Regions from separate parts of the Homo sapiens genome. Here region 1 is linked to region 2. Evidence: fine-mapped QTL for protein levels in blood plasma. A gene starts in region 2. The other region holds a variant in brackets. All regions are shown on one strand. Distances are from middle to middle.

The links. PIP is the posterior inclusion probability: the model's chance that the variant is causal. The UK Biobank Pharma Proteomics Project read protein levels with antibody pairs (Olink). The fine-mapping took linkage between variants from a reference panel, not from the people measured, so its PIPs are less certain.
Region 1: its variant is fine-mapped to the plasma level of the NPTX1 protein (UK Biobank, PIP above 0.99).

Annotation. Positions count from the first base shown.
Region 1 is chr17:80,554,803-80,560,164 of GRCh38, reverse strand. The region is part of intron 1 of RPTOR (regulatory associated protein of MTOR complex 1); the gene reads right to left. Among named protein-coding and RNA genes, the nearest start is that of RPTOR, 13 kb to the right of the region's middle. RefSeq lists a silencer at 2,889-3,089. The variant G/A (reference allele first, on the strand shown) is at 2,285.
Region 2 is chr17:80,474,226-80,479,587 of GRCh38, reverse strand. It overlaps NPTX1 (neuronal pentraxin 1), which reads left to right and starts at 2,981. Exons shown (of 5, transcript NM_002522.4): 1 at 2,981-3,585; 2 at 3,870-4,077. The coding sequence starts at 3,142. RefSeq lists an enhancer at 3,994-4,527.

The DNA of each region.
Region 1 (5,362 bases), 81 kb before region 2:
CCTGAAATCGCTACCTTGTTACTCAAGGGCAGATCATGACTGCACTGTGCTTTTCACTCAGCTGTGGGTAAGGATGTTGTTTTTCTCTTATAAGATGTAAATTCCTACAGGGCCATGACCACGTCTTCCGTCCCCTTCACCCCATGCACCCTACGTGCAGTGCCATCTATGTAAAACAACAGTGATTTCCCACAAAACACTGACTAATGCTGACATTTCTAGACAGCATGAGCCAATTGTTCAGATAGCTGGGGTCTGTGCATTTCACCATATGTAACGTTTACCTCAGAAAACAAGGAAGTCAACCTCTTGCAGCATTTGCTTTCCCAAGTGGCCAGCGTTAGCCATTCCGAGGCTCCCTTCTGTGCATTCCAGCTTTGAGCCCATGATTAAATGAGGACAATGGAGCTGGTTTCCCATGGCTGGGTAGGGAGTGGTAGCAGGCAAAGTGGGAAGGGCTGAACATATCATGGTGAGGAGCTGGACTGGAGCTCTCTCTACACATCCATGGTTCCAGCATACACAGAGAAACAGAGGTAAACAAGACAGAGCGCCATCCTCTCTCTCCTGCTCAGAGGGCCAACCAACGGGAGACGCATGCCACACCAAGGGCAAAGCACACAGCCCAGCTCTAAATGCACACGTTCGTGGCTTCTCAATGCCATTCGCCACTAACAGGAACCAGGCTCCTTGGAGAAAAGGCTAATTCCAGGACTGGGGCAGGGAGGGCACAGAGTGAGCTTGGGCCCTCTGGTTGTGCTGGAAAGTCAGGACGTGCTCCCAAACAGGTATGGCAAAAGGGCAGCATCAGTCAGGAGGCGACCACTCAGCAAGAAACGGCTTGAAGGTAATGGATCAAATGAGCATGACAGTACTGGGACAAAGCACCGTCGTGTGCTCCTGATGGGATTCACTGACAAAGGTGCATCATTACCCAAAATGCCCCATCTCAGTGTGAATATGAGGAAAGACTAGGCAGCTCAAATTCAGGACATTCTACTACATGCAAGGCCAAAACATTCAGAGACAGAAAGCAGAAGAGCGGTTACCAAGGGCTGGGGAAGGGGAATGGGGAGTTGGTGTTTAATGGAGACAGTTTCAGTCTGGGAAGATGGAAAGCTGCTGGAGATGGCTGCTGGTGGTGGATGCTGGTGGTGGCTGCACAAGCATGTGGGTGTGCTTGCTGCCACTAAACTGTGTGCTGAAAGATGGTTGAGATGGTAAATTCACAGTTAAAAAAATCAAGGTCAAGAAAGTCTAAAACAGACTGAGAGACTTCTTTAGATTAAGGTAGGCTACACAGACACGACCACCAAATGCAACGTGTGATCCTGGGTGACGGGCGGGGCATAATGAGGGCATTGCTGGGCAGGCAGCAACACCTGACCTTCTGAACTACAGAGGGCCGGGAGCACATATCCATGATACAGGTCCTGACTCTCACAACTGCACTGTGCTTACGTAAGAAAATGGCCTCCTCTAAGGAGACAGACACGGTGTTTAGGAGTAGAAGGGGGACAGCATCTCCAGCTCAGTCTGAATATGTAAATGGAGGGTGACAGTAAACAAGGCGAGATGTAAACAATCTGCAAACCTGGGCAAAGGCTATAGGGAAGCTCATGATACTATTCTTACAGGTTTTCCGTCAGTTTGAAATTACATCAACATTTTAAAATACAAAAAGTACTAGTCAAGAACAATAAACGCACCTGAAAAATATACCGACAGCTGGGTAAAATTCAAACTTGTTCTCGGCGACTGTCTCCTCTTCAGCTGTTTCCTGTTCGGCCTCTGAAGGCATGACAATTCTCTGCAGTCACACCCACCAATATGTGACAAGTTTAAGGGTTTCAGGGGTTTTTTTGAGACAGGGTCTAGCTCTGTCACCCAGTCTGGAGGGCAGTGACACCATCATAGCTCACTGCAGCCTTGACCTCCCTGACTCAAACCATCCCCTTGACTCAGCCATCCGAGTAGCTGGGACCACAGGCACATGCCACCATGCCCGGCTAATTTTTTGTATTTTTTGTAGAGACAGAGTTTCACCACATTGCCCAGTCTGGTCTCAAACTCCTGAGCTCAAATGATCCACCTGCCTCAGCCTCCCAAAGTGCTGGGATGACAGGCATCAGCCACTGTGCCCAGCCTAGAACACAGTTAAAGCATTGATTTGCAATGCCAAATATTTACTGGAATGGCATTTTCCATATATTTATGTATTTATTTATTATTATTTTTTGAGACGGAGTCTCGCTCTGTCGCCCAGGCTGGAGTGCAGTGGCAC[G/A]ATCTCGGCTCACTGCAACCTCTGCCTCCTGGGTTCAAGTGATTCTCCTGCCTCAGCCTCCCGAGTAGCTGGGATTACAGGCATCTGCCACCATGCCCGGCTGATTTTTGGATTTTTAGTAGAAAACAGGGTTTCACCATGTTGGCCAGGCTGGTCTCAAACTCCTGACCTCAAGTGATCTGCCCTCCTTAGCCTCCCAAAGTGCTAGGATTACAGGCGTGAGCCACTGTGCCTGGCCATTTTCCATATATTTAGACTTAGAAAAAGGTATCAAACTTCAGCTCTCCTGAAACAAGTATTGTAGATGACCAAAATACCTCCTTATTTTTGTATTTATTGATTTATTGAGTTATTGATTTATTTTGAGACAAAGTCTCGTTCTGTCACCCAGGCTGGAATGCAGTGGCATGATCTTGGCTCACTGAAACCTCCACCTCCCGGGTTCAAGCGATTCTCATACCTCAGCCTCCCAAGTAGCTGGGATAACAGGCATCCACGACCACGCCTAATTTTTAAATTTTTGGTAGAGATGGGTGTTTCACCATGTTGACCAGGCTGGTCTTGAACTCCTTTCCTCAAGTGATCCTCCCACCTTAGCCTTCAAAATTCCTTTTTAAAGTCATTTGAATAAGAGGAGGATAGAGTCAGAAACTGGAGGACACCTCCTATGTGTAATCCACATGCTATCTTGTTAAAACTCTAGCTCTAGAACTCCACAGGGTGATAATGAGGACATGTTCTTATCCATCTCAAGAGTCTTCCACAGCTCTTCAGAATGGAACAATGAGACAGAGTTTCACTCTGTCACCCAGGCTGAAGTGCAGTGGCAAGATCTTGGCTCACTGCAACCTCCACCTCCTGAGTTCAAGCGATTCTCCTGCCTCAGCCTCCCAAGTAGCTGAGATTACAGGCACCCGCCACCATGCCCGGCTCATTTTTCGTTATTTTTAGTAGAGACGGGGTTTCGCCATGTTGGGCAGGCTGGTCTCGAACTCCTGACCTCAGGTGACCCACCCGCCTCGACCTCCCAAAGTGCTGGGATTACAGGCGTGAGCCACCGTGCCTGGCCAGCATGTTTTAAGTTTTTTTTTTTTTTTAATCTGGGTAGATGGTCTCTTTGTGACTCCTGAAACTCACATGAGACTCACTAATGAAAAGTATATCCATTTCAAGAGCAAATAAAAAGAGCGGAACTGTACCAGCCAGCCAGTCCACACTACACCCACAAACTCCACCCACTGGAACCCATCCACTTCACATTCTATTTCTACCTTCTTCAAATCAGTAGGATCCATGCTCTATCGTCCATTCCTACTGCAGCCGCCTCTTTTGTGGCTCCCAAGGTTTCTTTTCTTGCTGTTTTTATTGAAGCAGGGTGTCACTCTATTACTCAGGCTGGAGTGCACCAGCACAATCATAGCTTACTACTGCAGCCTCAACCTCCCAGGCTCAAGCTATCCTCCCACCTCAGCCTCCTAATTTGCTGGGACCACAGGTGCGCACCACCATGTCCGGCTTATTTTTTACTTTTTGTAGAGACAGGGCCTCACTTTGTTGCTTAGGTTGGTCTCAAATTCCTGGGCTCAGCATGTAGTTGGTGATGGGGAGCTGCCCAGGAGCCCAGCTAGGGAATTGTTGTGTATAAATTTGTGTTTAGAAAGATCTTATTGTCTGTGGATGGAGTAGAGGGATTGGAGAGGTGAGACAGAATTCTGGAGAAATAGGAGGCCCTGACGGTGGCTGTGTGGCCACATGTAAGGCCACTGCCCTTACAATCACACAAGCGCTGATGTGAGTGTCTCATGTGAGTCTCGGGAACCACAAAGTATCTACCTAGATTTAAGAAAAAAAAAACAAAAAACTTTTTAGATCCTCCCAGCTCAGCCTCCCGAAGTGCTGGAATTACAAATGTGAGCCACCACGCCCAGCCCCCAGGGCTTCTCACCTGGATTAGCACAACTCCTCTCCACTTGGTGCCCCCACCTCCAGTCTCGCCCCTCTCCAATCACCCCACTCCATCCATAGCCAATAAGGTATTTCAAAACACAAATTTATGCACAACAACTCCCCAGCTGGAATCCTGGGACAGCTCCCCATCACCAACTACATGAAGTCACTGGCTGCTGGGAGTTTAATGCTGGTCAATGTGGATGATTTCTTTCATAAATGCAGTTCAATGCAAATGATTTACTTATTTAATATTAAATCAAGATGCTCCCCGTAATAATGTCATTCTCACCTGTAATTACTATGATTGATACCTATACTTGCGTATTGTAATTTGGTGCTACCGTGTCTGTCAGTCTGTCTAGGCAGCAGCGCCCTGGAGAGACAGGACACTTCCCGTGAGCTGTCCACCTTGGCTGAACCTCTGGCCACCTCCTCCTTGCCAGACAGAGTGGACATTCCTCCAGACAGACTGGGTGTTCCTCCACTCCCAGCACAAGAGCTACTGGGTGGGCGGTGGTGCATCTCCCTCCGGACACACACTAGAAATCTGGAGCAATAGAAGGACCTGATGGAGGGCTAGGTGGCCACATGTAAGGCCACTGCCCTCACAATCACACAGGCTCTTCACAAACATCCTCCCAGCTCCAAGTCCAGAGACCTCAACAGTTCTTTAGGCAGAGCGAATGGAAAGAGGGCAACAGATTAGGGCCTTTATGTTTCTTATCTAATGTCACTTCAAGGCCCTGCCTGACATTTCTGACCAGCCACCTGATATCCTCAAGCCCTTCTTCCTAAGGATGAGGCCCACTTTCTTCTAACTACACTAATAACTCTCAAACATCTGGCAGCAGGGCCCCTTTACGGTCTTAAAGGTTCCTGAAGACCCTCAAAGAGCTTTTTTATGAGTTTCATTTATCAACATTTTCCGTATTGAAGGTTAAAACAGAAAAACATAATTGATATATTTATGAATTCACTTAAAAATCAAACTTATTATATATTCAAATAAATAACATTTCTACAAATAACTATATTTTCAAAAATTGTCAGTTATCTTGTCACTTGTCTCAGGTGGCTTTTTTTAGATTTTTGCAAATCTCTTTAATATCCAGCTTCATAGAAGACAAC
Region 2 (5,362 bases):
GCTTTTGAGTTTTATTCACATCTATTGCACCGTTATGGTGGGAGTAGTATAATAAGTACTATTGTGCTAGGCCGGGCGCTGTGGCTTGCACCTGTAGTCCCAAGACCAAGGCAAGAGGAGTTCAACCATCTCTACGAAAAAAACAAAAAAAATTAGCTGAAGTGTGGTGGTGCAGGAAGCATCGCTTGAGCCCAAGAGGTCGAGGCTGCAGTTAGCTGTGATTGCGCCACCGCACTCCAGCCTAGGCAACAGAGCAAGACCCTGTCTCAAAAATAAAATAACAGTGTGCTAGTGTGCATGGTTTCCCAATGAGTGAGGTCGTGTCACAGGCAGCCACAAATGTACGCGGCTGGGAATATTACGGGATCGCCTCCCTCACCCCAGCTGCATCTGGGGTGTGGGACTCAGGCAGGGCCGGGATCACTGGCTGTTCACAACACCATCCCCCCTCTTCCGACCTAGTAACCAGACACCCCGATGAGTTTGGGCAGGGCGGCCCTTCGTTTTCCTGCTCCCTCCCTCTCAGATACTTTCAGAACACTGGGGAGGCCGAGGGAATCCTAAATACGACCCTCCGCTTGCCCAGGGTCTTGTGAAGGAGAAACGCGGCATGGTGGCCCTCGCGTGTGTGTGCAGCGCCTGCAGGTGTCCCGCCCAGCGCCTCCTGCACAACAGTTGCAGGCTGGACCCGAGGGTCTCCTCTCCTGGGGCCCCACAGTGCCCAGAGGTCCCGCTAGCCCCAGACACCGCCCCAGGCTCCCCTCCCTTTCTGACGCCGTCCACTCCCTTCCTCTGCGGAAGGGGGACACGCTCCTCTGTGCCGAGGTGCCAGGCCGCTGAGATCTGCTGCCCTGGAGGAAAAGCCAGGCAGGGTCCCTGGCCTTGGGCGGCTAGGAAGGCTCCACGGCTGCTGGGGATAGAGACGCGGGGCCAGGCTAAGGGTTCCCGCCCCGTCTAAACAGCCTGCCCTGGGCAGGGCAGGGCTCCTCTCCCGCGCCCGCGCGCTCTCGGCTGGGCACGGTCCGGCTCCAGGCCTGACGGGCGCGGCCTCCCCACTGGACGCGTGCGGGAGGGCGGCGAGGCCAAAGCGCTGGGGCCAGGAGGGCACCCGCCTAGCGGCTCCCTACGGGAGTTGGGGCAGAAGACGCCGCGACCCCGCGCGGGTAATTTCTCCCGAGGCGCGTTCCAGCCCGTGGCGCTGCCGGCGCAGACCCCGCGTGGGGACCGGCGAGGCTAACCCCTCCTGCGGCCCGGGGTCGGCAGAGCACGCAAGGGGCCGCGGGCCGCGTGGGTTTGGGCGCGCCGTGGTGGGCAAGCGGGGCCAGCGGAGCGGGAACCCGCACACCCTCCGAGCGGAGCCGAGGACAGGCCCGTGCGGGCCGCGGGGTCCCTCTGGCGCCAGGAAGCGGCGGCCGAAGGAGACAACGAGAACGCAGCCCCGGCTCAGGGAGGCTTAAAAGCTGAGATGCTGAACGCAGACGGCGGGCGCTCGGGGGCTGGGGGGCGGGTAGAGGCCGCCATTTCTCAAAAAGGTCTCCATCGAGCCGGCCTCTGCTCCCGCCCGAGGGGCGGACGCCCGATCCCGGCACCCGGGACTGCCCGTGGGTCCCTGCTGGCTGGGGACCCCCAGCCCCCGGCTGCGCGCAGGGAAAGGCTGCAGAACGCAGAGACCAGAGAAGCCGGGGGCGGCGGGGAGGGGTCGGGGGGCCACGGCTGTAGCCCGGCCCCGCAGTCTCGGAGCCTCAGTTTCCTTCTCTGTACCACGGGAGCGTGGACGGAGGGATTTCCGAGGCTTTGACCGCTCTGATAGCCCCGGGGCGGGGCGGGGCGGGGCGGCTGCGCCAGCCCTGGTCCTGAGCCCCCAGCCCGGCGCCGGAACCCGGACCGCGATCTCGGGAGCCGAGCCCCGCGGTCCAGATGAAGGCGCGAGTGCGCGGGTGCCGGGTGGGGTGTCTGAGCGAGAGCGGAGCTTCTCAGGTGGACGCCCCCAGCCACCTCCGGGACCCTTCCTGCTGGCCTTTGGGCCTGAGAAGTGGGCGCGGCTGGACAGACGGGAAACAGCCCCCCACGCACAGGTGGACACCCGGGGATACCGGGCGCGCGCGGCGCCTGGCAAGGGGAAGCTGCTGGAGACGCGGGCGGCTGCTCCCGCGGGGCCCCCTTCCGAAGCGCCGCTGCGAACGTCCAGCCCCGGCGACGCCGCCTGCCCGCGATCGGGCCGGCGCCGCGGACAGGAAAGGCTCGATCAGCTAGGTCTGCCTCCGAGAAGTCCCCAGCGCCCCGCCCGCACGGGGTGGGGACTGACAGTCCCCCGGGGACGGGGCCGGGTCCACAGAGCCCGGGAGCTGGGGGAGGGGAGGCGCCGGGGGCCCCGACCCGTGGGAAGTCCCTGTACCCAGGCTGCCCGGCGGCTTCTCAATAGCACACGGACATCTAAGAAACGCGGGGCGGCCCGGTGACCCCCGCTCTGGACTTAGTGGCGCCGCGAGGCCCCACTCCGAGCCGTTGACCACCGGGCACTCGGGTGTTGACGACCTGGGTCCTTGGGCACCCAGCCCGGCTCCAAACGACCCCGGCCCAAGGGTGTTCAGTGCAGCCAGGAGGGCCGAACCGAATTCTATCTCCCGGACGCGGTGGTTTCCCGCCCGCCTGGAGCCCCGTCGGAGGTTCGGGGACACCACGCAGGTGGTCCATCCTCGAGTCCGGGGCCGGAGCCCGACTTCCTTCCCCCTGAGCTCTCGGAGCCTTCGGGGCAGCAGCGCCGGCCCAGGCGGGGGCGGGGGAGGAGGGGGCCGCGGCAGCTCCCAGAAGGGCGGGGGGGACGCGAGCGGAGGCAGCCCCGGTGGCGCGCTCGTGAGACCCCCGCCGCGCCGCGGGCCCGGGCCGCGGACAATTAAAGCGGGATTCCTCCCCCGCTGACGTCGGCGGCTCGAGGCCCCTCCCGCGGCGGCATAAAAGGCGCGGGCTCCGCAGCGCAGGCGGCAGTGGGGGCCTGATAGCGCGGCGGTGTGGACCGCGCGGCCGAAGAGCGCGGCGCCCAGAGCGCGGGCCGCTCGCGGAGCCACAGCCCGAGCCGGGTCCCAGCCGGAGCCGAGCCCCAGCCGAGCCGAGCCGGGCCCGGAGCGCCCGGTGCCCGCAGCCATGCCGGCCGGCCGCGCCGCGCGCACCTGTGCGCTGCTCGCCCTCTGCCTCCTGGGCGCCGGGGCCCAGGATTTCGGGCCGACGCGCTTCATCTGCACCTCGGTGCCCGTGGACGCCGACATGTGCGCCGCGTCCGTGGCCGCCGGCGGCGCCGAGGAGCTCCGGAGCAGCGTGCTGCAGCTCCGCGAGACGGTGCTGCAGCAGAAGGAGACCATCCTGAGCCAGAAGGAGACCATCCGCGAGCTGACCGCCAAGCTGGGCCGCTGCGAGAGCCAGAGCACGCTGGACCCCGGAGCCGGCGAGGCCCGGGCGGGCGGCGGCCGCAAGCAGCCCGGCTCGGGCAAGAACACCATGGGCGACCTGTCCCGGACACCGGCCGCCGAGACGCTCAGCCAACTCGGGCAAACTTTGCAATCGCTCAAAACCCGCCTGGAGAACCTCGAGGTCCGCGCGCGCCCTCGGCTCCGGTTCCCCCTCCGGCTCGCTCGCCCCTCTGCCCTCCCCCACCCCGTTCCCTACCCGGCCAGGCATCCCCCGCCCTCGCCTCAGCCGCGCGGGTGCCCGGCCGGTGCCTCCCCGCGCCTGCGAGGCCCCGCGGCGGCCACTCGCCCCAGCTCCCTGCCAGGCCGCCCCCGCAGTCGCCCAGAGGGGACCGCGCCGCGGGCCTTCCAGCACGGTCCCCGCGCCTCGCCTAACGGTGTGGTTTCCCCCGCCCTTGCACCCCGCAGCAGTACAGCCGCCTCAATTCCTCCAGCCAGACCAACAGCCTCAAGGATCTGCTGCAGAGCAAGATCGATGAGCTGGAGAGGCAGGTGCTGTCCCGGGTGAACACCCTGGAGGAGGGCAAGGGGGGCCCCAGGAACGACACCGAGGAGAGGGTCAAGATCGAGACCGCCCTGACCTCCCTGCACCAGCGGATCAGCGAGCTCGAGAAAGGTACTGGGGCCAGGGGGAGCCGTGCTGCCTGCCTGCACCTGCTTGCCCGACCCTGCCTCGGTCCCGATCCCTAACAGCCCAGCTCTGCACTGTGCAAGCCTCAAGCCGCTCCGCTACCCCCAACCCCTGCACCGCTTTCTCATTCCCCGCACCCCTTCCCAGGTTCTGGGCTTCTAGTCGGTGTTTCTATCAGGGCTGGGTGCCTTGGGCTGGGGCTGTCTCTGGGAAAGGGGATTGCATAGTGCCCCCTCCCCCATCCAGACACACTCACACACTCGCTGGATTTTTCAAGTCTGATTTGTTTAATCCTCAGTAACTTTGCACAGTGGCTGTCGCTGGCTCAAACCCTCCCTGCTTAAGAAAGCCTGTCTCTCCCTGGTCCCCAGCCTCAGCGTACAGCTGGGTGCAGGCTGGGGCTGGGCGCTCTCGTTCCCCGGGCCGCTGAGGCTGTTAAGCAGGTTTCTTCCCGGCTGCCATGCCCCCGGTGTCCTCTCAGGATCTCCAGCTCCTCCCCACTTCTGTCCTGAACCCCTACCCTGAGGTTTTCTTTTCTGAGTGACCCAAGTCCTGGCATCTTTCAAATCCCTGAGGTTTCTCAGTCACCAACTCAGGCCAGCCAGTCTATCACCCAGGGCGCCTGGATGAGCGCTGGAGGCTCTGTCTTGAAGTCGCAGAAATCAAACAAGGTTGTAAAAGGGGAGGGGGGGGGGTGCCCGGTGCGGAGCAAGGCCACGTGACCCTGCTCAGACCGCAAAATGTGCCGGACAGATTTAAACAGTGCCATCTTAAGGCTTGTTATGTAACTGAAAAACAGATCAGAAGGAAGGACCTCAGGAGGGAGGGAGAGGGAAGGAGCGGAGATTGGGGAATGAAAAACACCCGGAGAAAGGCCAGGGGCTGGGCCCCTCCCTATCCCCCACTGCAGGCCTCAATGGGTTGGGGTAGCCGCTGGGGTGCTGCACTGAGGGGGCCTGCCCTGCTCTGCTCCCTGCCAGTTGGTTTAGAGGAGGGGGTGGTTGCTGACCGGGCAGGATGTCTTCTAGAAATAATTTTTGGCCTGGGGAACTGGTTTCTTTCTGGGCTTCCTGGCAGGACCACGGCTGCTCACCCAGGGATTGACCAAGGGGTGTGTGTTCCTGGGCTCTGGGCCTGCTACTGTGCCCATTGCTGGCCAGGAATGTTTTGCCTGGAGTCAGTCACACCATACCCAGGGTGCCACAGTATATAGATGGGCTATGGGGGTTGGCGCTTACGGGAGAAGTGGCCGGTGGGGAGGGAGAAGGTG